6 separate regions of the Homo sapiens genome follow, and all the other regions are reported to be linked to region 6. The links are microRNA targets in miRTarBase. Many come from high-throughput screens and were not tested one by one. Region 6 holds a microRNA gene; each other region holds the end of a gene's coding sequence.

Region 1 (4,076 bases), not on the chromosome of region 6:
GCTGGCGGTGTCATGACCCCACTCATCAAGAGGAACACCACGATCCCCACCAAGCAGACGCAGACCTTCACCACCTACTCGGACAACCAGAGCAGCGTACTGGTGCAGGTATACGAGGGCGAACGGGCCATGACCAAGGACAATAACCTGCTGGGCAAGTTCGACCTGACCGGGATTCCCCCTGCGCCTCGCGGGGTCCCCCAAATCGAGGTTACCTTCGACATTGACGCCAATGGCATCCTTAACGTTACCGCCGCCGACAAGAGCACCGGTAAGGAAAACAAAATCACCATCACCAATGACAAAGGTCGTCTGAGCAAGGACGACATTGACCGGATGGTGCAGGAGGCGGAGCGGTACAAATCGGAAGATGAGGCGAATCGCGACCGAGTCGCGGCCAAAAACGCCCTGGAGTCCTATACCTACAACATCAAGCAGACGGTGGAAGACGAGAAACTGAGGGGCAAGATTAGCGAGCAGGACAAAAACAAGATCCTCGACAAGTGTCAGGAGGTGATCAACTGGCTCGACCGAAACCAGATGGCAGAGAAAGATGAGTATGAACACAAGCAGAAAGAGCTCGAAAGAGTTTGCAACCCCATCATCAGCAAACTTTACCAAGGTGGTCCTGGCGGCGGCAGCGGCGGCGGCGGTTCAGGAGCCTCCGGGGGACCCACCATCGAAGAAGTGGACTAAGCTTGCACTCAAGTCAGCGTAAACCTCTTTGCCTTTCTCTCTCTCTCTTTTTTTTTGTTTGTTTCTTTGAAATGTCCTTGTGCCAAGTACGAGATCTATTGTTGGAAGTCTTTGGTATATGCAAATGAAAGGAGAGGTGCAACAACTTAGTTTAATTATAAAAGTTCCAAAGTTTGTTTTTTAAAAACATTATTCGAGGTTTCTCTTTAATGCATTTTGCGTGTTTGCTGACTTGAGCATTTTTGATTAGTTCGTGCATGGAGATTTGTTTGAGATGAGAAACCTTAAGTTTGCACACCTGTTCTGTAGAAGCTTGGAAACAGTAAAATATATAGGAGCTTAAATTGTTTATTTTTATGTACTACTTTAAAACTAAACTGAACATTGCAGTAATGTTAAGGACAGGTATACTTTTTGCAAACAAATGCATAAATGCAAATGTAAAGTAAAGCTGAAATTGATCTCAAAGTTACTGTCTTGGAGTTTTCAATTTTCCTTCCTTTATATTTTACCCATATTCGTCTTTTAAGATGTTAGTATGATGTGAAATTTATCTAACCAATCTTGTTTAATTCCCAGATGAGGGTGCTGCCTTGAATTCCAACAACTTAAGGGGAGAAGAATCTGGGTAAACTTCACCCACCCTTAAATACAGAAACCTGACTTGGGGTCTTCCTAGTGTACTCACACTCCTACAACTTAAGTGTCCAAATGAAAATTCACCTGAATATTCCAGGAAAATATGAGCTATATTCTGGGGTTAAATGTAAAATGAGCCTTTAACAAAAGCTGGGCAGAAGTTGTCTTATAATTGCCAAAGGAAATATGGAAACAAATTAATTTTGTGACATACAGGAGCCTGAAACAAGAGACAGCAGGCAAGCTTTCAAGTGACTTAATAGTGAGTATAAATTTAGTCAAACTTGTTTAATTTTCTAGTAAAACAGCTCAACTTCTGAGCTTATGGCAAATTCTAATAACATGTTTCCCGCAGTTAGAATTACTTGGGTAGGGAAACATAATTATTATTATTTTTTTCTGGTTTGGGGATCATAACGTTTTTGCAATACTTGCCTTAAATCACTACGATAGATTTCTTTTTTAAAAGGCAAACTGTACTAGATAGTCTTGTATTTTGTTAATATACAACTTGTCCATTTTCCTCCATATCCAATTTGAGATTGTTATAGATAAGAATATTGCAACCCTTTGGTGATCCACTATCCTGGACTTAATCTTTAAAATTCACATCCTTCAGAGAAAGGAATTCATTTTTATTTTTTAGTGAAATGACATGACTACTCTTTTCTTACTCTCTTTAAGGAGAACTTGAGAGAAATTCAGTAAAACCAATAGGAAAATGCATAGTTAACCTAATGTTTTTACTGCACATAGACGTTTTGATATCTTTCCACATGATGCAGGTTTGCTTCATGCTGCTCATAAGACAATAGTTATGAAAGCTTTATCTTCAATTTAGTAGTGGACCCATCTGTGTCATTCAGAGAGATTAATTTTATGAATAATGGAATGAGTAATAATTTTAAAACTAGCTAAGAAGTTAGCCTAAGAATACTGGCCTTTGGTAATGACCCTTTCATACAAGAGTTGACTCTTAAGTACACATAAGGTGTTTTTTTTTTTTTCCTTTTTAGCAAGCCTCATTTGGGTAGGGGGGAGGAAGATAAATAGCCAACAGTGAAATTGCTTCAACATAAAAACCTTTTTTTTTTTTTAAAGGAAACTGCTTTTTATACTCTGAAAAGCTAAAGATAACTCCAATTTATCAGTGCTGGTGTCACATTGGTGGAAATTTTTCAGCAATGAGCATTTAAGGGTGTTTCATGGACTACAGGCATAAATATGTGACAAACTACTATGGTACTACAAAATCAGGTTAATTGTAGCTTTAGAGTGACGTTTACTGTGAGTTTTACCAAGATAATACCCATTCTGTTACCCTTTTATTAGTCCTTTATTTGTTGAAAGTGTTCATTCCTTGCTCTAACTTCAAAATATAATGGAGTCCTTCTGTAAATGCAGTTTGGTATGACTCATTTTAGACCTCACTTAAGAGATTAGTTTCTAAAGTATCAGAAAATGACCATTGGTAGTTTTTGATCCTACGGCCTGACCTCCGGTAGCTTGCTATAATACTAACATCAATCTGGGCAGATACTTCATTTTCTATTTTGAAAAGTAATTTGTAAAACTCAAATTCTTGAGTTTTACATTCTTGAGCATTCTTGAGAGTGTTTCTTATTTAATTCTCTCTTTTCAAATTTACCAAGATTTGCATATTACCAAGATAAAGCCACCAAAGTAGCCATTCACTTTCCAGGGGTCAGTTGAAACTTGTAACCTGATAACTCCTGGGAACTCCTTAGCAGATGTTAGATCAGCCATAGTCAAATAACAGTGGAAAAAGTACTTGATGTTAGGATGGGGCTAAATTACAGTTTAAGGATTCTCCGACAGGCACTTATCTGAAATTCTTTTTTTTTTTTTTTTTTTGAGACGGAATTTCACTCTTGTTGCCCAGGCTGGAGTGCAATGGCTTGATCTCGGCTCACTTCAACCTCCGCCTCCTGGGTTCAAGCGATTCTCCTGCCTCAGCCTACCGAGTAGCTGGGATTACAGGCATGCACCACCACACCTGGCTAATTTTGTATTTTTAGTAGAGATGGGGTTTCTCCATGTTTGTCAGGCTGGTCTGGAACTCCCGACCTCAGGTGATCCGCCCGCCTTGGCCTCCCCAAGTGCTGGGATTACAGGCGTGAGCCACGCGCCAGCCCACTTACCTGAAATTCTTATCTGAATGTTTGATTAACATAGTTGTCCCTGTTTTGAGGGAACAAATATAGACACCTGTCAAACGAAGACATAACTAGTTGTTTACAGTATTTGAGATGTGTGAAATTTCAAAACAAACTCACTTTAAATTTTTTATAGTATTGATTTGATATGTATAATGAAAATGCATTAAAACTTGTACATTAGGAGATCTTAGTACAATTTACAACTGTTAATTTAACATGTATGTGTAATATTATGTTACCCATTCAATATGTAATGGAGACTTAATGAGTATTTCTTTTTTATGTATAATCTTAAACAGTAATACAACCTGGCTATCTAGATGAAATCAGAAAATCTATTTTTATGATTTTCCAATAGTGGACCTATAACATATTCTTACTTTTAACTGAATGTAGTTTATAAAGGTTGTGTTGTGAGGCATGCTCCTCTTGCTTTTGAACACGATTTAAATTGAAGTTTAAAAATATCTCACATCCGTATGTCTCAACTGTTAAGGGAATATATATGTTTGGATTCAGAAGCAGGAATATTCAATTGTGTAATGTATAAATAGGTGTGAA
Region 2 (4,089 bases), not on the chromosome of region 6:
GAACTCTTCCAAGATACAGTGGGGTGTACAACCTGTATCCTTTAGAATCTTGAGTTGGTACAGGGTGGCTAATTAGATGGAGAAGTCAGTCTCGAAGCCTGTTGCACTCTGTTCATGACTAGACAAGAATCACATATGTATGGCGTGCTATGTGCCTAGCACTGTGCTAATTCTCCCAACAACCACGTTAAATGGGTGTACCTCACGTTACAGATGGGGAAACTGAGGTCCAGGGAGGTAAAAGTGATTTGCCCAAAGACACCCACTTGGTGTATACCAAGACTGGTATTGGCATCTAGGCAGTCTAATTCCAGAGCCTCCACTCTTAGCTCCCACTCTGTGACTCTCAGTAATGAAAACTGGCCAGGGGACAAGGGATGGCATTTTAAGTTAAGCTGTCTTTCTGTGTCTCCCTTTAGAAGAGAAAGGAGGAAAGAAAAGAAAAAAACAGAAACAGAAGCTCCTGTTCAGCACCTCAGTCGTCCACACCAAGTGACACTACTGGCCCAGGCTACCTTCTCCATCTGGTTTTTGTTTTTGTTTTTTTTTCCCCCATGCTTTTGTTTGGCTGCTGTAATTTTTAAGTATTTGAGTTTGAACAGATTAGCTCTGGGGGGAGGGGGTTTCCACAATGTGAGGGGGAACCAAGAAAATTTTAAATACAGTGTATTTTCCAGCTTCCTGTCTTTACACCAAAATAAAGTATTGACACAAGAGATCTCTTCCTGCCAAGGTTTTTAGTTCATTGCCAGTTTAGTCTTTTTGACCCATGTGTAATTAATTTTTCTCAACCCAAAGTAAGATTGAGTCCCCTTTGAGATGCATTAGAGCAGTCCAACCCAGAATGGCACACACTGCTCTGCTGTAGCATCATGTCAGGGCTTCCTGGACTCAGTACACCTCTCAGTTTGTCTTTTAAAAAACAGCTGAATCTTTACTACCTATTTAGTTCTCCTTGTTAAAGAAACAGGGGTGGGAATAAAATGGATTTAGGACACCCAGTTTGAATTGCAGTTTTTTTTTTTCTGACACATGGCCAGGCTGTGGTGCCAGCTTAATGGAGTAGGCTGTCCTTGGCACTTGCATGTGTGAAAGGAGGGTTTTGCCTCTTCTTGAGCATGGCTTGAGTTGGTAAGGAAAGCTGTAACTCACGAAGCCCTGAGACCTGCTACCCCTAAGATCGAGCTTGTTTTCAGTGACTGGCTTGAGTCATAGGAGGAGGAGTCTGGTACAGCTGCAGGAGAGCAGGGCCATCTGAAGCGGTAGCATTGCCACCATCTCCCTCTCATCTAGAGCAGTTTTCTTATGCCTTGGTTTGAGCTGAATTTGATGTGAATTCTTTTGCTGCTTAATAAAGTGACCTCTAGGTGCATTAGAATGCGAAGGCAAATAGTTGCAATAAATCACCTGCACAAGCATTGTGAGCTTTTTGTTTTTTTAAGTTCATTACAGGTAAGCTAGACAAGTTATTTCTTGAATAGGTTAACGTGACAGCTACTATGATATTGTAGGCTGTCTTTTCTGGTGTCAGGTTTAAATGGTTCTAGAGCTGGGCTTAGCTTTAACCTGCCATTTTAAAAGAAATCCTATCAGGAAATTTCCTGGATGGATGAGGGTGTTCTGGCCTCCAGATGAGGGGGCATGTTGAAGCCAGAATCACCAGTGTTTCTGTTAAATGTGTATGGTACTTTCAGTCTCATCCATTGTATTATGGAGAAAACAGATCCCAGAAATGTCAGTAGGTAGCAGATCAAACCTGGATCACAAGTCTCCCGCCATTCCTACTTCCTGTGAGTATGGCAGTCTGACTTGTCTTCAGGGCGCCTTGTATTCAGGCGCAATAAGAGCGGAACTACAAAAACTACCTTAAGTTCCTTAAGTGGACAGCTGCTACATGACCATGCAGTAATGATGTCAGATGAGGCCAGCACCCGCGCCCCCCCCAACTGCAAAGGTTGCATTTTTTGTTTGAGACAGAGTCTCGCTCTAGCCCAGGCTGCAGTACAGTAGTGGGATCTCAGCTCACTGCAAGCTCTGCCTCCCGGGTTCACGCCATTCTCCTGCCTCAGCCTCCTGAGTACCTGAGATTACAGGCACCCACCACCATGCCCAGCTAATTTTTTGTATTTTTAGTGGAGACAGGGTTTCACTGCGTTAGACGGGATGGTCTTGATCTCCTGACCTTGTGATCTGGCCGCCTCAGCCTCCCAAAGTGCTGGGATTACAGGTGTGAGCCACTGCGCCCGGCCCAAAGTTGTATTTTTTAAGTTACCTGATTAACTATTGGCAAGGAATCTGGTATCTGTAAGACCCTGTGGTTCAGTACTGAGATGGGCTGTAGATCTCTGCCAGTTCAGTTGCTGTGTCTCAACTAATATTTCTATTCCAAATGACTTGGCTTGCTTAGGGCCCATCATGGGGCCGGGGGTACAAAGCTTCAGGTAGAAGGCTAAGTATTGAAAATTTAGGCCAGGCACAGTGGCTCACCCTTTAATCCCAGCACTTTTGGAGGCCAAGGTAGGCCGATCACTTGAGGCCAGGAGTTCAACAGCAGCCTGGCCAACATGGCAAAACCCCGTCTCTACTAAAAATACAAAAATTAGCCAGACGTGGTGGTGCACGTCTGTAATCCCAGTTACTTGGAAGGCTGAGGTGGGAGAATTGCTTGAACCCAGGAGGCGGAGGTTGCAGTGAGCCGATACTGGGCCACTACACTCCAGCCTGGGTGATAGACTGAGACTGTCTCAAAAAAAAAAGTTTAACTAGTACCACATAGGGAGTCAGTCTTCCCACCAAGGCTAGGGATAGAGAGAGAACAGAGACTTGGCCAAGCATGGACTCCATAAGCCCTTTCTGTAATATAAGTATGCTAAATGCCACGGAAACCAGATACATTTATTAAATCTACTCTTAGCCAAGCAATAAAGATGTCTACAGAGTTCACAACCTGCAACACTTCACCAGGGAATGCTAGGTAAAGGCAACTTCAGTTTAACTGAGTACTCCATTTCAAGTGGGTAATGTCTGCTGGTTGGCAGCTATCCAGTTTGGAAAACTGTGGAAGATGCTGTTGCTACCCAGATTGTTCTGTTCAACAAGTGGGCCTGAAGCCTGAGCAGTGTAGCCAGCTGTGTGGGGAGCAGAGGTTCACTCCATTGCTTCTGCAGCCTCCTCACCTGACTCCTCCTCCTCCTCTAATAAGCAGCTTCTTGTCACAGACTTCTGGATAGCTTCCCGCTCTCCTGGAGAAGGCAGATAACAGGGATGAAAGATATCTTTGGGAGTGATTTCTTCAGCTTAAGGTCAGTCACTGCTCAGTGGGCACTGGGCTAGTGTTGCTTACCTTCATCAGTGCAGTTCTGCAACAAGATCAACAGCTGTCTCCTGTTGTACTGAATTAGGAACTTCTGACATGTTCTTATTGTACCTGGCATATGAGTTACTGTGGTCAACAGCTTGTGAAAGATCTCGACCTTACAGACTTTCAGAGGTAGGGGGAAGTGTCTTGTTAGCGGGACAGCAGCAAGACCCACCCACCAGTTTAGACTGAACTGTGAACGTGTCACCAATTGAAAATCAGTAGCCATACCACCTCACTCCTACCTCCCACATGTAATGTGTTGAAAAAGCATGGGTAACGGTGTCCTTTGTTCTCCAAGTATGTGATGAAGGGAAGAGCTGACCACACAAGCTGATAGAATTCTTTTCTGCATCGAAGTAGCACTATTCCAGTATAGGCATTGAGATATCGAACTACAACAGGAAAGAAAAATCATTTTGGAAAACTTTTGCTCTGTGTGGTGGCTCACGCCTGTAATCCCAGCACTTTGGGAGGCTGAGGCGGGCAGATCACTTTAAGTCAGGAGTTCGAGGCCAGCCTGGCCAACATGATGAAACCCCGTCTCTACTAAAAATACAAAAATTAGCTGGGTGTGGTGGTGCGCACCTGTAATTCCAGCCACTCAGGAGGCTGAGGCATGAGAATCGCCTGAACCCAGGAGGCAGAGGCAGCAATGACCCCCGATCTCGCTGCTGCACTCCAGCAGCCTGGGCAACAGCCAGACTGTCTCGAAAAAAGGAAAACTTTGG
Region 3 (4,089 bases), not on the chromosome of region 6:
AAAGCTACCTGAATGAGTCTTCAGTTTCTAAGTCTAAGAATTGTAGCAGCTTTCCAATGACATTCAGTAGTCTGATATGGGGGAAAAAATACTTAAAAAAATGTCCTCTCTTCACTTCCAAAATGTGGGAAAGTTATTTTTCTATAAGCAGAAATGTGTTCCTCCTAATATCTCCTTTCTCCCAAGATAAACCATGGTTAATGATATAGGTATAGATTACTCCTCAAATACAAATAGAAGATGGAGATGGTGATCTTTCTTGTTAATGGTACTAAACTTACCCTTACTCAGAACATTGAACTTGAACCCTACTCAACTTTTAAAATACTATAGGCTAAGTTATAAAAATAATCTAGCAACCTGAGAAAGAGATTAATATCAAAAAGAGAAAATTCAACAAACCAAGACAGAATTTGGTTAAGAATACAAAATAAAAAGCATAAGGGCAATGCAGAAAGCAGTAAAACTGTGTACCCAGACATACGGTAAAATCTGAGTAACAGGCAATAACCATTCATTTTATAGCAAGGTAAAACATACCCAATAAAACATGATTATGATATATTTCTGCCCCTTTTAAGTATAATGACATTCACCCATGATTCTTGATTACTTTGTTATGGAACTCGGGTATTTTCACTGAAAGTTTCCCTCAGAATAGAAATGCCTTTAGGGCAAACCAAGCCATGGAGAATCTGAAATATAAAGGATATGTTATGGAAAAAAAAAGATTTTGCTTTTTGTCTATGGGTTTCCGGATTCTTTGCTTTTTCATAAGTGGTCATAGTTTGCTTTTTAACACAGGAGGTAGGGCTGTATTCTTTTTACATCCTTCATTACAAATTTTATTTGAAGCTCATGTATTCAAATAAAGTAAAATTTAACCCAAGAATCCAAAATATTGTCTTGTGATATGGTAGTTATAAAAAGGATTATCATTGTCTGTGATTATTTGAATAAATAATTTTTATGTTCATTATATGTAGTAAATTTAGGATGTAAGCTTCCAGGGTTTGACACTTTAAACTTGTAAAGAAATAAAAATAATTACGCTTTACTTCCGATAGTTTTTGGAGATTTAAAGCTGTCTTTGTCTTGAATTATCATTCCAAAATCATTATTAGGAACAATGGAGCTTTATGGGGCTGTTTGACCTTAACACTGGAACAGGTCTCAAGGTGAACTGATTTTCAGAGTTTGCTAACAAGCACCAAATCAAGATGCAGACACTGGAACAAAGAGTAATTACAATGAACCTTTCATTAAGAACCTGATACACAAAGTTAAGTCCCGACTTGATCCCTTAAAAAATCTGCTTAGAGAAGTTTGATTTGTATCTTATCTGATCAAACCCAGATACTTTAAGACAAAAGTAGGAAATTAGAACAGATATCACCAAACTGTTTTCTTCTCACTTCTCTACTGTGAGAAACAACGTAGTAAGTGGGCAAACAATATTATGTGGAATTCAGAATAACAAAATAAGGCATTCTGGAAACTTTACCCTTGTGAGACAGTCGTATTTCTACATACTACATAATAGTTGTGCTCCTTTTGGCAAGCACTTCAATTTCATTCCTCACAGTACTTAAAAATCACTCAATGAACTTATAAAATGAACTTCAAAGAAAGAAAAAAAAGGAAACAGAAGGCGGCCAGGTGTGGCGGTTGACGCCTGTAATCCTAGCACTTTGGGTGGCCGAGGTGGGAGAATGGCTTGAGGCTAGGAGTTTGAGGCCAGCCTGGGCAACAGAGTGAAACCATTTCCAAAAAAATTTTAAAAAGAAAAAAAAAAAAGCCAGACATGGTAATGCATGCCTGCAGTCTCAGCTACTCAGAAGGATCACTGAAACCAGGAGTTCAAAGTTACAGTGAGCTATGATGGCACCACTGCACCCCAGCCTAGGAGACAGAGTAAGATCCTTTGTACGCATAAAAAGAAAAAACATATCCTGTTTATCAACTTTACAGCTGAAGACCTTAGTCTGATCAATGCCAGGTTCCTACATAAAGAGTTCACAAAATTTCCATGGCACTTAATAGATTTAAGCTATGAACTATATAACATGGATGTGAATGTGTGTGTCTGTGACTGTATGCACACAACATACAAATACAGATCTGTTGGTATTCCTTCTTTCTAGGATTTGTTACAATCATAGTCGGTATGAGATAATGGAAAATAAATTATTCTATTAACATATATATTTTGTTAAACATTTTATTTATGTGGCACTCTGAAACGAGCAACCTATGAAGGCATAAAATAAAAAGATTTTTTTTTAACTCGGGAGGTAAAGCTAGATATATCAATTAGGAACTGATTCATGGTGTGATGTACACGACATGTTGAAAGAATGCCAAAAAGGCGCAAACCATCATACATTAATACAAAGGACAAAAACAAAAAAAACCCCAGCATCTTCTTGCTATGAGGCAATAAGGCACTGCTAAGAGACTTGAGCACCAAAATGATTCTCTACAAATTCCTTCCTTTTTATACTGCAAATACTGCATTATTATATTCAAACCTTTAAAAACTAGGTAATACTTAAGATTTAGAGTCAACTTACTTTGTGGGAAATTCTATTTGCTGCTTTTAAAAACAGGTTAAAATAAGCTCTTAAAAATTAAGTAACAATAATCATATACAATACAGATATATAAAAAGGGTTGGTTTATTGTAGTTCAAATACATAAACTGAACATTCAAACATCTTAAAATTAAACTTTAGCAACAAAGTTTAACATTCAAACAGGAGTATAGTTTACAAGAAACACCCAGAAAGGTAATTTGTTGTCTAATCCAGAATATTGATAAAGATCACTTAATGGTGAATAAAATATGTTTAACCAGTGGTTCTATTCTGGCCAACATGTTAGTTATGACCGTGGTTCCATACCTGAGAAGAAATTACTACATAAATCTTCTCTTAGGCTAAACAACAAGACTCGGTCTATAATTCAGAGGGGATAATCAAAGCACGTAAGTGAACAAATAAAACTAATCTGATCTTTAGAGACAAAGGTAAAAGTATTGTCCATTATAATAATTGTAGCCTCTGGAAGATAAGAATTCAATTTTCAGTGTTTTCTCTTTTACCCGCTTTAAAAAAAAAAAATCAAAACAAAACAAACCCCAACTCGGGTTTTCTTGGAGTCTGTGGTATTTGCATCTGGCAAGTTCAAGCCACAAATGCTCTTACTTCTTGCATGTATTAACACTGCTAGGAAGAACGTCACCAAGTCACTGACTTCCACACCTCATAAAAGGATGAATTTTAGCTTCAAGATTTTAAGATTTACTAGAGACAGCCTATATTTGAGTATGTATGTCAGTCATGCCACACAAAGAAAAGCATAAATATTTCCAAAGTGTTCTGTTCAGAAACTGTTCACAAATGCTTCTCCTTCTGTTTGTCAGATGGTTTCGCAATAGGTTGACTAATGCACATATATGTAAAAACCTGAAAATTGGCTCATGCAAGCATTTTGAATAGATGCCCCTATGGAAGAGTATTTAGAATTATTTTGTTGATCGTCTCGTGGGCTCCGATGCTGTGGGAGGTGGGGGTGGACCCCGGCGATCCAGGTCATCAACATATGCCACAATCAGTTTACGCCTCTCCTCTGGCACACAGTCCAGTACTAGATACCGTTTGTCATTCTGTAAAATTTTTTCTACATCTTTCAGGTGCTGATCTGATTCTTGGATTAATTTTTTGGATCTGAAATAAGAAAAAGAAGTCCAAGAATTACTGACTGCTGTTCACAGGTCTTTCAGAAATGAGCTGGAAATGTCCATCTAGTTCCTAATTGTGTTTCCATTTTTTTTTTTTTTTTTTTTTTTAAGAAAAATTTCACGGCAGTGGTCACCTTTGTAAGTCGCCTCAGCAAAGACTCCAAGGAGTGAAAGGGCCTCAGAAGCTGAATTACCCTCCCACCCCTAGTGGTGGTCCCTCCAGATCAGGGCTGAGGGTGGGTGGGTAAATCTTGCCCGTGCTGTACCTGTTCTGTGGATGAACAGAGGACTTCAGTCTGCGGGGCTGCCAATCCCAGCATCTTTCACAAGCTTTCACTTTCACATCT
Region 4 (4,076 bases), not on the chromosome of region 6:
AAAGAAAACAGCAACAAGAAAAGTGAACTACGGGCAACTCATAAAAGAAGAAATAGCAACAACCAACATGAAAAAGAAATAAAAAATAATTTTACTTTAGAAGAAATCTTAAAAATGCAAGTTTCTTAAAAGGTGAGGTTTCATTTTTCACGTATCACGTGGCCAAAACATTGAAAGATTAATGATATCCCTGGTAGCAAGGGAATGCAAAAACTAGCTTTCTTGTGTGCTCCAAACACTAGTAGACTAAATTGGCTCCAGTTTTCTGGAAAGCATTTGGCAATATGTAACAAAAGTACATGGGGAAAGGAGCTAGAGTGCCAGGGCCAGGCTGCCAAAGTCAGATTGCAGTCACACCACTCACTGGTGGCAGGACCCAAAACAAGTTTCTTAGCTGCTGTGTACCTCAATTCCTAGCCCATGAAATGCATGTACTATAATAGTGGCATCCATCTCAAGGGCTGCTGTGAGGCTAAATCATAATATTGGTACCAAACTTGGACCAGTGCCTGGCATATGGTGCTGGCTTTCATTATTATGTTGGCCCAGCAACCTCACTTCTAAGAATTTATTTTAAGGAAATCTTAATCAAGTGCACAAAGACACATATACACATTTTTTTAATCACTTCATGATTTATAAAATGCAAAAAGTAGAAATGTCTGGTTAAAAAAACTTTTGTAATCTTTGCCTGGAATACGAGGTGGCCATTATATATAACTGTCTTATATTTATACGTACTGACATGTACATGTGTACTGATATAAAGACATTTGTAATCTGTTTTCCAGGAGAAAATCAAGCTAGAGAAGAATATAGTTGAACCCTAGGAAGGAGTTTTTTTTTTCACCAGTGCATGTACATCTAGATGTTAACAATAATTGACTGAATTTGTGGGTTATATTCTTTTTGATTATCTGTATTTTCTAATTTTTCTGTATCAACCTTATCATTTGTCTAATTTTTAAATGATCTGTTACATACGTTCCACAGTTCTGGCAAATCTTGTGCTGGTTAATTTTAGTTCAATTTAATGAGAGCAAGAGATACCTGGACAGCTGTGAAGCATTACTTCTGAGTAGGTCTGAGAAGGTGCTTCCAGAAGAGATTAGCATTTGAATCAGTAAACTGAGTGAGGAAAATCTGCCCTCTCCCATTGTGGGGGACACCATCCAATCTGCTGCCAGCCTATATAGAAAGGCTTTCTCTCTGGAGTTGGGACACCCAGCTTCTGTCCTTGGATGTCAGAACTCCAGGTTCTCAGGCCCCAGGACCTGCACCAACAGTCCCAGGTTCTCCGGCTTTCGGATTTAGACTGAGCCACTCTACCAGCTTCCTTCATTCTCCAGTTTGCAGACAGCCTATGCCGTGATCACATCAGCTAATTCCCTTAATAAATCCCCTGTCATTTATTAGGGAAACTGGCTAATAAATACCCATAAGTATCTATCTATCCATATATCCTACTAGTTCTGTTTCTATTGAGACCTAATACAACTTACTAAAGAATTTTAAAATATATTTGAAAATGGGAAGGGGTGAACACAGCATAGAAACACCAAAGTAATACGTTAGTCAAACCCTCCAAAGTAGATAGAAAAACCCATTTGGAAACATATAACGTAATGATGAACATTCAAGAACAGAGACATTCTCATTGATAATCATCACCAGTGTGTGCACACAAGTCCAAACACATTTACTGTTTACATTTGCATTCCCCCAAAAGTGGAGCTAGAAACAAGGACTTGGGTGCAGATTAATTTACCTCAGAGGTGCTCATAAGAGAAAGAAGTAAGGGAGTGAGAAAAATGAAACAGAAAAGAGGAAGGCCGATGAACTATGCATTAATAATAGTAACTGCATACTAGTGAGAACTAGCACTCAATCCCACAAGGGACTCTGAGAAACTGTGCAGAATAAAACTCAGAGGTGCCCCACAGAAGCACAGGAAGCCTGGAGCAATTACTCATCAACTCCCATCCCATCAAGATTGTGGGCTGATCTGGTAGCATCAGCTCTCCAGCTCTCCTGAGCTTCCTCATTGAGCAGCTTCCTTTGTACGACAACACCCCCAGCCTGCCCCCTCCCCCAGCTACCCTACTCCACCACCAGACCCCTTTTGCTCCCTGCAGTGTGTTTCCTCCATCACCTTCCTACGAGAACTTCAAGGCCTCTCCAGGTGTCAGGACCACCCAAAGGTCAAAGGAAGTCTGGGTGAGTTGGAGGTGGTAATAGATGAAACAAGATTGACCTTGAGTTGAGCTGATAATATTTGAAGCCCAGTGATGAGCACATGGGTTCATCACACTATTCCCTTTACTCATATATGTGTTTGAAACTTTCCATAACAAAAAGTTAAAAATAGATCTTTGCTGTGTCAGGGATGGAGGTTCTTTGCTAGGTCTCCCTTTCAGGAAAAAAAAAAAAAAATGCCACTCAACCAGGAGAAATGAAATTGACTGACAGGTTCACTCCAAGGTTCACTCCAGCTTTCAAGTCAAGGTCTCATTCAGTCTGGGCCACCCCAGCCAATGGCCAAGTGCAGTGCAGGCATGAGAGCCTGGCCATTTCTGCACAATGGGGACTCCCAAGTGGGCAGTTCTTGCTCAGGAGCTCCCCACTGGGTCAGTGGAGACCTTGTCAACACATCAATGCCCTGAGTTCTCCTGGCTCCTCCAGCTTCCTTCTCTCTTTCTGTTCACAGTGGTCAGGTGTGCATTGCAGTCTGCGGCCTTTCCCCACTGGATCCTACCTCCACCTCCTTTTCTTTCCCAAGTGCAGCTCCTCAATAACTCCATCTTGGCAACCATGTCCCAAAAGACCTAAACTGACACAATTAAGATGCAGTTGCTTCCTTCCCTCCCAACCCCCTGAAAGCTCCAAAAATAATGAAATACATACCAGAGTTAAAAACATTGTACTATATTTAAATGTTTGCATATAATATATTAATGTTTTTCACACTAAAAATATACAATGGCTATGTATAAAACCTGATTTTGGAAATAATATCAAAAATTACACGTGTGGTCCTTTGGGGATACAAGGTCCAGCCAAGTGGCCATCCTCCCTTCCCACCCATGAGTAGGCCTGCCACATATCACAACCCTGGGAAACTCTCCAGGATCACCCAGGCTGGGATAGATGGCCTCTCATATGCTCCCCATAACACCCTGTTCTCTGTCACTAGATTACTACCTTGTGCTGGCACTGGCTGTAAACATTCTGCCCCAGCCTCTGCCTGCACCCTAACTCAGTAGTGAGAGGCTAGAGAGCCTGGCGCAGAGTAGGTAGGCACTCAGTAAATAATTTTGGATCAATCACTGAATGACTGACTGAGGCATATGTCCCCAAAAGGACCCCAGATAGGAACCATCTCCACAGTGTTCCTGCAGTTTTATAAAAGGCTTGGGAAAAGAGAGTTAGTGACTCTTTTCAGTCTTGGGGGGATGTGGAGGTAGAGGAAGAAAACTACCTGGAGGTTCTATTTTAACCCTTTCTCAAGCCTGGGGACCTAGGGGCTCCTAGTCAGGCACCTGTGGCCATCTACAGCAGGGCCCCTCACAGGTCAGGAGGGATGAGATCATATCCATTCCCTGCACTGCTTCTCTCCAAGAGGATGATCTCTTGGTTGTTTGTGAAGACAAGAGGCCCAGCAGCCTCTTCTGTTGAAGTGGACCTGAGCTGGCCCCAGCCAGGCTAACCCTCTAGCCAGCTAGCTTCTGGGGTGAATCACCAGGCAGGGACCCTGGGTTGGCCAGAGCTCTGTGGACCAGTGCCAAACTTCTCTGGGAGCTTTGAGCGAGACAAGGGCTTGGGTTTCTCTCTCTGGTCCAGGTCCAGAGGAAGATCTTCCAAGGAGGAGATCTCCAAGTCACTCTCATCTTCAGAAAGCTGCAGGGGGTAAAGGGGAGAAGAAAATGCATTTTGATAAGGGAGGAGGGTGGCTGAGAGCTAAGCACATTGCAGGATGGGAATGCAGAATGGAAATGGGGACAAATGCAGACTGGGAAGAAAGCAATAGGGAGATGCTACTCCTCCTGACTTCTCAAGTCTTCCTGCCTTTGAGAACC
Region 5 (4,089 bases), not on the chromosome of region 6:
TTGATATTCTTTCTCCTTTTTCTTCTTTGTACAGGATTCCCCAGCTTTCCGTTGCACAAACAGTGAAGTGACAGTCCAGCCCAGCCCCTATTTGAGTTACCGGCTACCCAAGGACTTTGTAGACCTCTCTACTGGGGAGGACGCTCACAAGCTAATAGACTTCCTTAAGCTGGTAAAGTCTATGTGCATTTAGTATGCTGGCCATCTTTTCAAATAGACCTTCAAATTGGCTTTTATATAATATTTCATTGGAATCCTGTATCACCTAGACTTTGATGGTTATGAATGGAACCAAGTTACTGAGTTAGAGCATTTTCTAATTAAATATGAAATAGGAGCTGAAGGCATAATTTATTGATTAGAATGACAGAAAATGTTTTTATGCTGTACATGCCTTTTGAACATTTTTCAAAATACTTGTAACTTTGAAGAAAGTGTGTATATTGTTAGAAGGCTGTAAGGAGAGCAGGTCTCTGCTCTGGTGGTGATTTTACTCAAGAGGGGATGTGAATATTTATATTTTTGTGTGGATTTCTGTGTAGGAGTTTTTGTATGTATGGAAGAAAGAGAAGAAAATACTCAAATACCTGAGGATAATTTGCTCAGGAGTCAAAGTGATAAACTAGTTTAATGAATTAAAGCATGGTTTTCCATGACAATTTTTAATTACATCCTTTGCCAAGACCTCTAGAAAATTACACCTGCTGAGCAGATATCCCAAGGAGCATGTGCTATTTTAACATCCCCTTGGTTTTCTTTGACAGAAGAGAAATCAGCAGGAGGACGACTGATGAGCGTACTGGAACTGGAGAAGAGGAGGCCCCGCCCCACCGCTCCGGGAGCTGCTCATCAGCCGCAACTTCCTGCCGACCCTGATGCGGGTGGGCCGAGCAGTGTGGACATCAGCCACTTTTTATATTCATGTACATTCACCTGGGGAAAAAAACGGAGGGACTTTGCTACTTGTAAAAATAACATAATAAATAGATCTTAAACATAGGAAAACCATACTGTTCTGATAATAAAATGCTTTCTATGAAATACGTTGCTTTTCTACCGAGTCATTATTTTATTTATTTATTTTAATTTTAATTTTTTGAGACAGTCTCGCTGTGTCGCCCATGCTGGAGTGCACTGGTGCGATCTCGGCTCACTGCAACCTCCACCTCCTGGTTCAAGCGATTCTCCTGCCTCAGGCTCCCAAGTAGCTGGGATTACAGGTGCATGCCACCACACCCAGCTGAGTTTTATATTTTTAGTAGAGGTAGGGTCTCACCGTGTTGGCCAGGCTGGTCTGGAACTCCTGATCCTCAAGTGATTTGCCCACCTTGGCCTCCCAAAGTGCTGGGATTATAGGTGTGAGCCACCACGCCCGCCCTGTTTTGTTTAGGGACAGTCTTGTTCTGTTGCCCAGTCTGGGGTGCAGTGGCACAATCACAGCTCACTGCAGCCTCAATCTCCTGGACTCAGGCAGTCCTGCCTCAGCCTCCTGAGTAACTGGGACTACAGGTGCACACCACCACGCCCAGCTGATTTTTGTATTTTTTTGTAGAGATGGGGTTTTGCCATGTGGCGTTTTTAAAAGGCCACCATTTTTAAGTGATGATATCAATTGTGCCTAATTTACCGAGGCTTTATGATGTGCCAGACATTCTACTAAGAGCTCTTTCTGTATTAGTTGACATCACCAAGCAATTTGAAGGATACAGACATCACAATTTCCCAGGGTACCTGCCCGACGTGGTATCCGGTGGTAATCTTCGTCCTCAGTACTTGATCTTTGTATTCAGTACATCAGATGCCCTTTTTTTCTTTTTTTTAAGTAGTAGAGATGGGGTTTCCCTGTGTTGCCCATACTGATCTCAAACTCCTGGCCTTAAGCAATCCTCCTGCGTCAGCCTTCCAAACTGCTAGGATTACAGGTGTGAGCCACTGTGTCTGGCCTCAATTGCCATTTGTGGGGCCAGTTGTTTTTTTGTTTGTTTTTGAGATGGAGTTTTGTTCTTGTTGCCGAGGCTGGAGTGCAATAGTGCCATCTTGGCTCACCGCTACCTCTGTCTCCTGGGTTCAAGCGATTCTCCTGCCTCAGCCTCCTGAGTAGCTGGGATTACAGGCATGTGGCACCATGCCCAGCTAATTTTTTATTTTAAGTAGAGATGAGGTTTCTCCATGTTGATGGGGCTTGTCTTGAACTGCTCACCTCAGGTTATCTGCTTGCCTCGACCTCCCAAAGTGCTGGGATTACAGGTGTGAGCCGCCGCCCCTGGCCTCAACTGTTTAATGTACAGGTACTTCAGAAATACTTTTGTTTTTTTAAACTGCTTACAGGTGCCTATCCACCTATGATGGATTTAGTATCAAGGGTTGATTTTAAGTTTAGCTCTGGAAGCTGGCTTTGTCAAGATGGCATTTTACCAAGCCAAAAAAAAAGTAAATATATTTGATACCAATTGAAAACATTCAGACTAGGCTGGATGTGGTGGCTCATGCCTGTAATCCCAGCACTTTGGGAGCCCGAGACCGGCAGATCATCTAAGATCAGGAATTCAAGACCAGTCTGACCAATATGGTGAAATGCCATCTCTACTAAAAATGCAAAAATTAGCTGGGTGTGGTGGTGGGCGCCTGTAGTCCCAGCTACTTGGGAGGCTGAGGCAGAAGAATGACTTGAACCTGGGAGGCGGAGGTTGCAGTGAGCTGAGATTGCACCACTGCACTCCAGCCTGGGTGACGGAGCGAGCCTCCATCCCCCACAAAAAAGAAAACTATATTCAGACTATATAAAATAAAAAGACCCAAGCAAAATTTGGCAGAGAGTTCATAAACTGTACAATTCTCATTACACTTTTGCGCACATTTTCCTGGGGAAACTGGACTTCAACTCCCAGGTCACTTTCTAAAATGTGATTTTTGTGCATTGTTTACTTAGTGTATTTAATTTTAGTTGATTTTCCTGATGTTAATATCAGGAAATATAGGATACTATGCAGGAAATATTCTCCTAAAGCCCAGTATAATTTATGCCTGCCTAAAAATTACTTCTGTTTTAAGACAGAGTCTCACTCTATCTCCCAGGCTGGAATACAGTGGCACGATCTGAGCTCACTGCAACCTCTGCCTCTTGGGTTCAAGCAATTCTCCTGCCTCAGCCTCCTGAGTAGCTGAGATTACAGGTATGCATCACCACATCCAGCTAATTTTTGTGTTTTTAGTAGAGATGGGGTTTCACTATGTTAGTCAGGCTGATCTCAAACTCCTGGCCTCAAGAGATCCGCCCGCCTCGGCCTCCCAAAGTGCTGGGATTACAGGCGTGAGCCACCGCGCCCAGCTCTTAAGTTTTGAATCGTCCTTTTATTTTACTGGCATTTGTTCTTTCTTTGAGGTACCTCAGGCTTGTGCTTGAATTCAGAAAATGGAAACCTGTGTGCTTCCTCAGCGTGTCCCTGCAGTCCTTCCTTCTGAAGAGAAGACGCTGCTGCAGTTGCCTTTGAAGGGTTGGGGTAAATATGTGCTTTGTCCTGCAGGTGGTGTCATGTCGCATGGGCCTCCTGGAGACAGCACGCTTTGCCAGTTTTGTTTTCAAGAGTCTCATTTGATTTGCATTTTCTGAGTTCGTAAGGTTTTCTCATCTCAACCATTTCTCTTTTTGATGATTGAGGATCGTTAAAAAACAAGCAGAAACCTTATGTGACAGTTTTTTTGACTAAGTTTGTTACCTGCAAAGGGTAAGAAGAGTTTTCTGGAGTCCGTTAAGTGAGATAACTCATAAACCTGTAGCGTAGTGCACTGCACGTCACAGACCACAGACAAATGGTAGCTATTGTCAATCATTCTGCTTGGCAGACTTCTGTACAGTATATGAAAGGCACGTTCTTTTTAACAGAGTCAAGAAAAAAATATATATATATATTTAGTAGAGACGGGGTTTCGCCATGTTGACCATGGCTGGTCTCAAACTCCTGACTTCAGGTGATCCATCCACCTCAGCCTCCCAAAGTGCTGGGATTGCAGGTGTGAGCCACCACGCCCAGTCCCTTCTTTTCTTTTTTGACAGATGACGAAACTGCTCCCCAAAGATGTTGACTTTCC
Region 6 (4,089 bases):
CCCACCTCGGCTTCCCAAAGTGTTGGGATTACAGGTGTGAGCCACCACACTGGGCTCAGGCTGGTTTTTAACTCCTAAGCTCAAGTGATCTGCCTGCCTCAGCCTCCCCCAAAGAGTTGGGATTATAGGCGTGGGCCACCACGCCAGGCCAATTTTTTTTTTTTTTTTTGAGATGGAGTCTCGCTCTGTTGCCCAGGCTGGAGTGCAATGGTGCAATCTCAGCTCACTGCAACCCCCGCCTCCCAGGTTCCAGCAATTCTGCCTCAGCCTCCTGAGTAGCTAGGATATAGGTGCGCGCCACCGCACACGGCTAATTTTTGTATTTTTAGTAGAGGCGGGGTTCACTATGTTGGCTAGGCTGGTCTGGAACTCTTGACCTTAGGTGATCCCTGCTGGGATTATAGGAGTGAGCTACTGTGCCTGGCCCGTTTATGCAATTTTTAATCGTTCTATAAAAGACATATATTTCTTGTATAACCAAAACACGTGGGTGTGCCCCCTAGTTCTATCTTAATTCTCTTAGCTCTCCCCCCTGAACTGATCTAAGCTCTTTCCTCCTCTACTGCCCCTCTTAGGGAAATGAATCATCTATCATGAGTTCTGTATTTAACTCTACATTCTCGAGAGGCTCCCTGATTCCAGCTTCTGGCAAAAGCAGCTGTGTCTTCACATTTCTCATGCTCTCCCTCCTTGGCTCCAGGACTCACCGGTGTCAGCTTGCCAGTCAGCAGCAGGAGTAGCGTACTCTTCCCCACACCATTAGGGCCCACAATGCAAACTGCAAGATGGAAGACAGGTGGTCAAAGAGGTCCCCAGAGACTCTCCCTGTGGCTCCTGCTACACATCCCTGAGGCAACCCCGCCAACTCACTCCTTGAATCCATGTCGATGCCAAAATCCAAGTTCTTAAAGAGTGGTTTCTGTCCCTGGTAGCCGAATGTCACACCTGAAAGCCACGAAAAGAAGCAATTTATATTCTTTTCAGTCCCTGCAAAGTCCCTCTCATGTGCTGGCCTTGGAGAACAGGAGCAATCTCAGCCTTGGTGGAGAATTTAGGGTGCACATACATGCTTCCGGTGCTTCCTGTGGAGCAGCAGAGGCCCGCGGCACTCACCATGCAGACCCAGCACTGGAGGGCTGAGTGGTGGGGGGTCTGGAAAAGTGAAGCGCACAGTGTACTCCTTAGGGCGCTTCAGGAGCTCAGGGGCCTCCTGGGATTCCTCATCTTGGTTTTTCCGTCGGCATTTCTGCTGCTTCCGAGTCAGGGCTTCCTTCGTTTGTTTTTCCTGGAGAGGAAGAGGAAAAAAGAGAAACCTGAGCCCTGCGCGGCAGTCCTTGAAATGTAGGCCAGCGTTCCAGAGTCTCCTTCTTCCTCCACTGCCAGGAGAGAACAGTGGCCCCCAGCCCAGAAGTCCCTCAGGTGCTCACCGCCTGCTTGGTGGACTTCCCGCCTGCCTTCAGCTCCTTCAGCTTTTTCTCTTGCTTCTCATACTGTTTCAGCAGTTCTTTCTGCTTCTGCTGGTACATCTTTTTGAAGGTCACTGGGGCAGAAGAGGGGACCAGGCATCAGTGGTTGCTCCTCTTCCCAGCAAAGGGACAACCAGGGACTGGTGGTGATGGGGTAGGCATCACTGTCTGGAATTCTGACAGGATTCAGTTTATCTAAATAGGCCCTCCCACTCAGGCCTCTTTTCGAGGTTCTATCTCTTCCCTGCATCCACACACAATCCTACTTACTGTAATTGCCCCTATAGTAGTGGAGCCGCTGGGCATCGAGGTGGATGATATCAGTGCAGACATCATCCAAGAAGCCCTGGTCATGGGAGACGATCAGCAAGGTCTTCCGCCAGCCCTGGAGGTAGCTGGGTTTCAGAGAACAGGGTGTAAGTGTCACAGTGGTCAAGTGAGAGAGAATTCAGAGGAAGCAGGCAGACAACGGGGGCTGGGAGGGAAAGGGGGGTCTGAATAGAGCTCCACTCACAGGCACAGTGGAGAAGGGCTAAAGGAAAACAGGGCAGGGAGGGAAGGGGAAGAAAGTGCAGAATGGGAACCAATGATGCAAAGGCCGTAACGCACTTATTAAGCCAGATGACAGCGTTGAGGTCCAGGTGGTTGGTGGGCTCATCCAGCATCAGCAGTGTGGGCTCCATGAACAGTGCCCTAGAGGGTGGGTAGCAGAGGGCAGGGTCAGGGAGAGAAAGATCCTTGCTCAGACAACCCCAGAGAAAACTCGGAGATAGAGCCTGAGACCATGAACACTCCTTCCCAAGCTCTCCTCAGAGAAGTTCTCGGGCAGGATACGGTTTAATTTTTTTGAGACAGGGTCTCGCCCTGTTGCCCAGGCTGTCGTGCAGTGGCACAATAAGGGCTCACTGTAGTCTAAATCTCCCAGGTCTAAGTGATACTTCTACTTCAGCCTCCAGAGTAGCTGTGACCACAGCGTGCGCCACCATATCCAGCTGATCTTTAAATTTTTTGTAGAGACAGGGTCTCCCTATGTTGCCCAGGCTAGGATATGTTTTCTTCCCCCTTTTGTGAAGATAGAGTCTCACTATATTGCCCAGGCTGGTCTCAAACTCCTGGGTTGAAGATAATCCTCCTGCCTCTGCCTTCCAAAGTGCTGGGATTACAGGCGTGACCCATTGCACCCAGCTGCAGGGTATGTTGATGAGAACTCACCACCAAGTAGGGAGATAAATAGAGAAAGACCCTAAGTTCTCACAACACAGATAGTAAGGAGGGAGAGGTAAGCCTTGAGCCTCCCTATTGGCCTTGGAAGAATGAGAAGGGAAAGAGGAAAAGGGCCCCGGTGGTCTGAGGCTGGAAGGGAGGGCAGTGAGGTGAATGGCCCACCTGGCCAGGGAGACACGCATGCGCCAGCCCCCTGAGAACTTCTGTGTGGGTCGATTCTGCATTTCAGGGTCAAAGCCCAGGCCAGCCAGGATCCGCCGTGCTTTGGCCTCTGCAGCTGCCGCCCCAGTGGCCCGCAATTCCTCATACACCTGGGAGGAGGGAGAAGAGGACACACGTCTGAGGGTCCCAGGAACCCCCAAGTCTTTGCCCGTGTCCCCTGCGCCATCTCCTCTACCTTCTCTAGCCTCTCAGCAGCTGTGTCATCCCCTTGTTCCAGCTGTCCCTGAAGCCGCCGCTCCTCTTCCAGCAGCTTCAATCGCTTGGTGTCAGCTCGAAGAACAGCCTGGACTGCTGGTGTCTCATCTGCTACCACCTCTGGGAGGCAGAGGGAGAACAGTCAGGCAGCCTCAAGAGCCAAGAGTCTCATCTTTCTTTCCCTTCAATTACATTTCTGTTTTGCCTGACCCTGCCCAGCTCTTTGTACTTGTTCCAAATAAAACACTCTCAAGTTCCTCATTGACCCTCCCCTCCTTTCCTTAGCATCCCTTTCCCGGTCTCCAGTCTCCCTCCACATCCCTTCCAACTCCATAGCCACAATTTCTTCTATTCTTGGCTGGCTGGCTTTTCTACCCAACTGCCCACCCCACCAAGCCCCTTTTCTCCCCAGTGGTCTCACCCTGCTCACACAGCAACACATCAATGTTGGGAGGGATGCTCAGGGCTCGGTTGGCAATGTGCTTGAGGAGTGTGGTCTTGCCCTTGCTGGGGAATAAAAGCTATTAGGACCTGGCCACCACTGAGAAATCTCTTCTTTTCCCTCCAGGCCCTTTTTTGCCTCCAGCTCCCTCCTCTTCTCACCCATTGGGTCCTACCAGCCCGTAGCGGCGGCCGGCTACAATGTACAGGTCTGCATTGACGAACAGCTCCTTGCCATGAGCGGAGATGCTGAACTTCTCCAGCTGCAGCCATCAGGAAAGAGGTGGCAGAGGGAAGGGATGATCACATGAAAATTCTCCCTTTGGGACAGGAGCGGCCACTTTCTCCCTGCAGGGAAGCCTCTGACAAACCGCTACCTCCAGCATAATCCCCTTCCTCTCCCCACAGCCGGTCCCCGCCCTGTTCGCTGCCTGTAATGGGAGCCCCATGCATCCTCAGCTAGTCTAGTCTGTCCCACACTATTTTCTGCCAAGGGTGGACCCCACTTCTACTGGTTTTTCTATCTTCTTGCTCAAGTTGG

What was found. The annotated mature microRNA hsa-miR-877-3p reads UCCUCUUCUCCCUCCUCCCAG and lies in region 6 at 3,002-3,022, opposite strand. An mRNA with a match to its seed (bases 2 to 7 or 8) in the 3' UTR can be bound and repressed. Matches are read on the target gene's strand: a 7mer-m8 pairs with bases 2 to 8, a 7mer-A1 pairs with bases 2 to 7 and ends in A, and an 8mer does both.
Region 1: miRTarBase lists HSPA2 as a target of hsa-miR-877-3p. The part of its 3' UTR that is shown has no 7-base or 8-base seed match.
Region 2: miRTarBase lists RNF10 as a target of hsa-miR-877-3p. The part of its 3' UTR that is shown has no 7-base or 8-base seed match.
Region 3: miRTarBase lists TCERG1 as a target of hsa-miR-877-3p. The part of its 3' UTR that is shown has no 7-base or 8-base seed match.
Region 4: the mRNA of DZIP1L is a reported target of hsa-miR-877-3p. Seed matches in the 3' UTR shown: 7mer-m8 at 3,663-3,669.
Region 5: the mRNA of CDC123 is a reported target of hsa-miR-877-3p. Seed matches in the 3' UTR shown: 8mer at 811-818.

Annotation. Positions count from the first base shown.
Region 1 is chr14:64,542,074-64,546,149 of GRCh38, forward strand. HSPA2 (heat shock protein family A (Hsp70) member 2) reads left to right here. Exons shown (of 1, transcript NM_021979.4): 1 at 1-1,164. The coding sequence ends at 696. Among named protein-coding and RNA genes, the nearest start is that of HSPA2, 3.4 kb to the left of the region's middle.
Region 2 is chr12:120,576,171-120,580,259 of GRCh38, forward strand. RNF10 (ring finger protein 10) reads left to right here. Exons shown (of 17, transcript NM_014868.5): 17 at 420-1,418. The coding sequence ends at 496. POP5 (POP5 ribonuclease P/MRP subunit) reads right to left here. Exons shown (of 5, transcript NM_015918.4): 3 at 3,604-3,753; 4 at 3,344-3,427; 5 at 2,594-3,242. The coding sequence ends at 3,148. Among named protein-coding and RNA genes, the nearest start is that of POP5, 3.2 kb to the right of the region's middle.
Region 3 is chr5:146,510,080-146,514,168 of GRCh38, reverse strand. It overlaps TCERG1 (transcription elongation regulator 1), which reads right to left. Exons shown (of 23, transcript NM_001382548.1): 23 at 2,208-3,728. The coding sequence ends at 3,527. GPR151 (G protein-coupled receptor 151) reads left to right here. Exons shown (of 1, transcript NM_194251.3): 1 at 1-1,025. Among named protein-coding and RNA genes, the nearest start is that of GPR151, 4.1 kb to the left of the region's middle. RefSeq lists a silencer at 3,337-3,537.
Region 4 is chr3:138,059,081-138,063,156 of GRCh38, forward strand. DZIP1L (DAZ interacting zinc finger protein 1 like) reads right to left here. Exons shown (of 16, transcript NM_173543.3): 16 at 2,910-3,897. The coding sequence ends at 3,736. Among named protein-coding and RNA genes, the nearest start is that of CLDN18, 51 kb to the left of the region's middle.
Region 5 is chr10:12,249,547-12,253,635 of GRCh38, forward strand. It overlaps CDC123 (cell division cycle 123), which reads left to right. Exons shown (of 13, transcript NM_006023.3): 12 at 35-172; 13 at 765-1,043. The coding sequence ends at 791. Among named protein-coding and RNA genes, the nearest start is that of CDC123, 55 kb to the left of the region's middle.
Region 6 is chr6:30,583,330-30,587,418 of GRCh38, reverse strand. MIR877 (microRNA 877) reads right to left here and starts at 3,087; the gene lies at 3,002-3,087. It overlaps ABCF1 (ATP binding cassette subfamily F member 1), which reads right to left. Exons shown (of 25, transcript NM_001025091.2): 11 at 3,711-3,811; 12 at 3,529-3,614; 13 at 3,088-3,227; 14 at 2,853-3,001; 15 at 2,076-2,159; 16 at 1,737-1,861; 17 at 1,428-1,540; 18 at 1,114-1,285; 19 at 871-945; 20 at 708-778.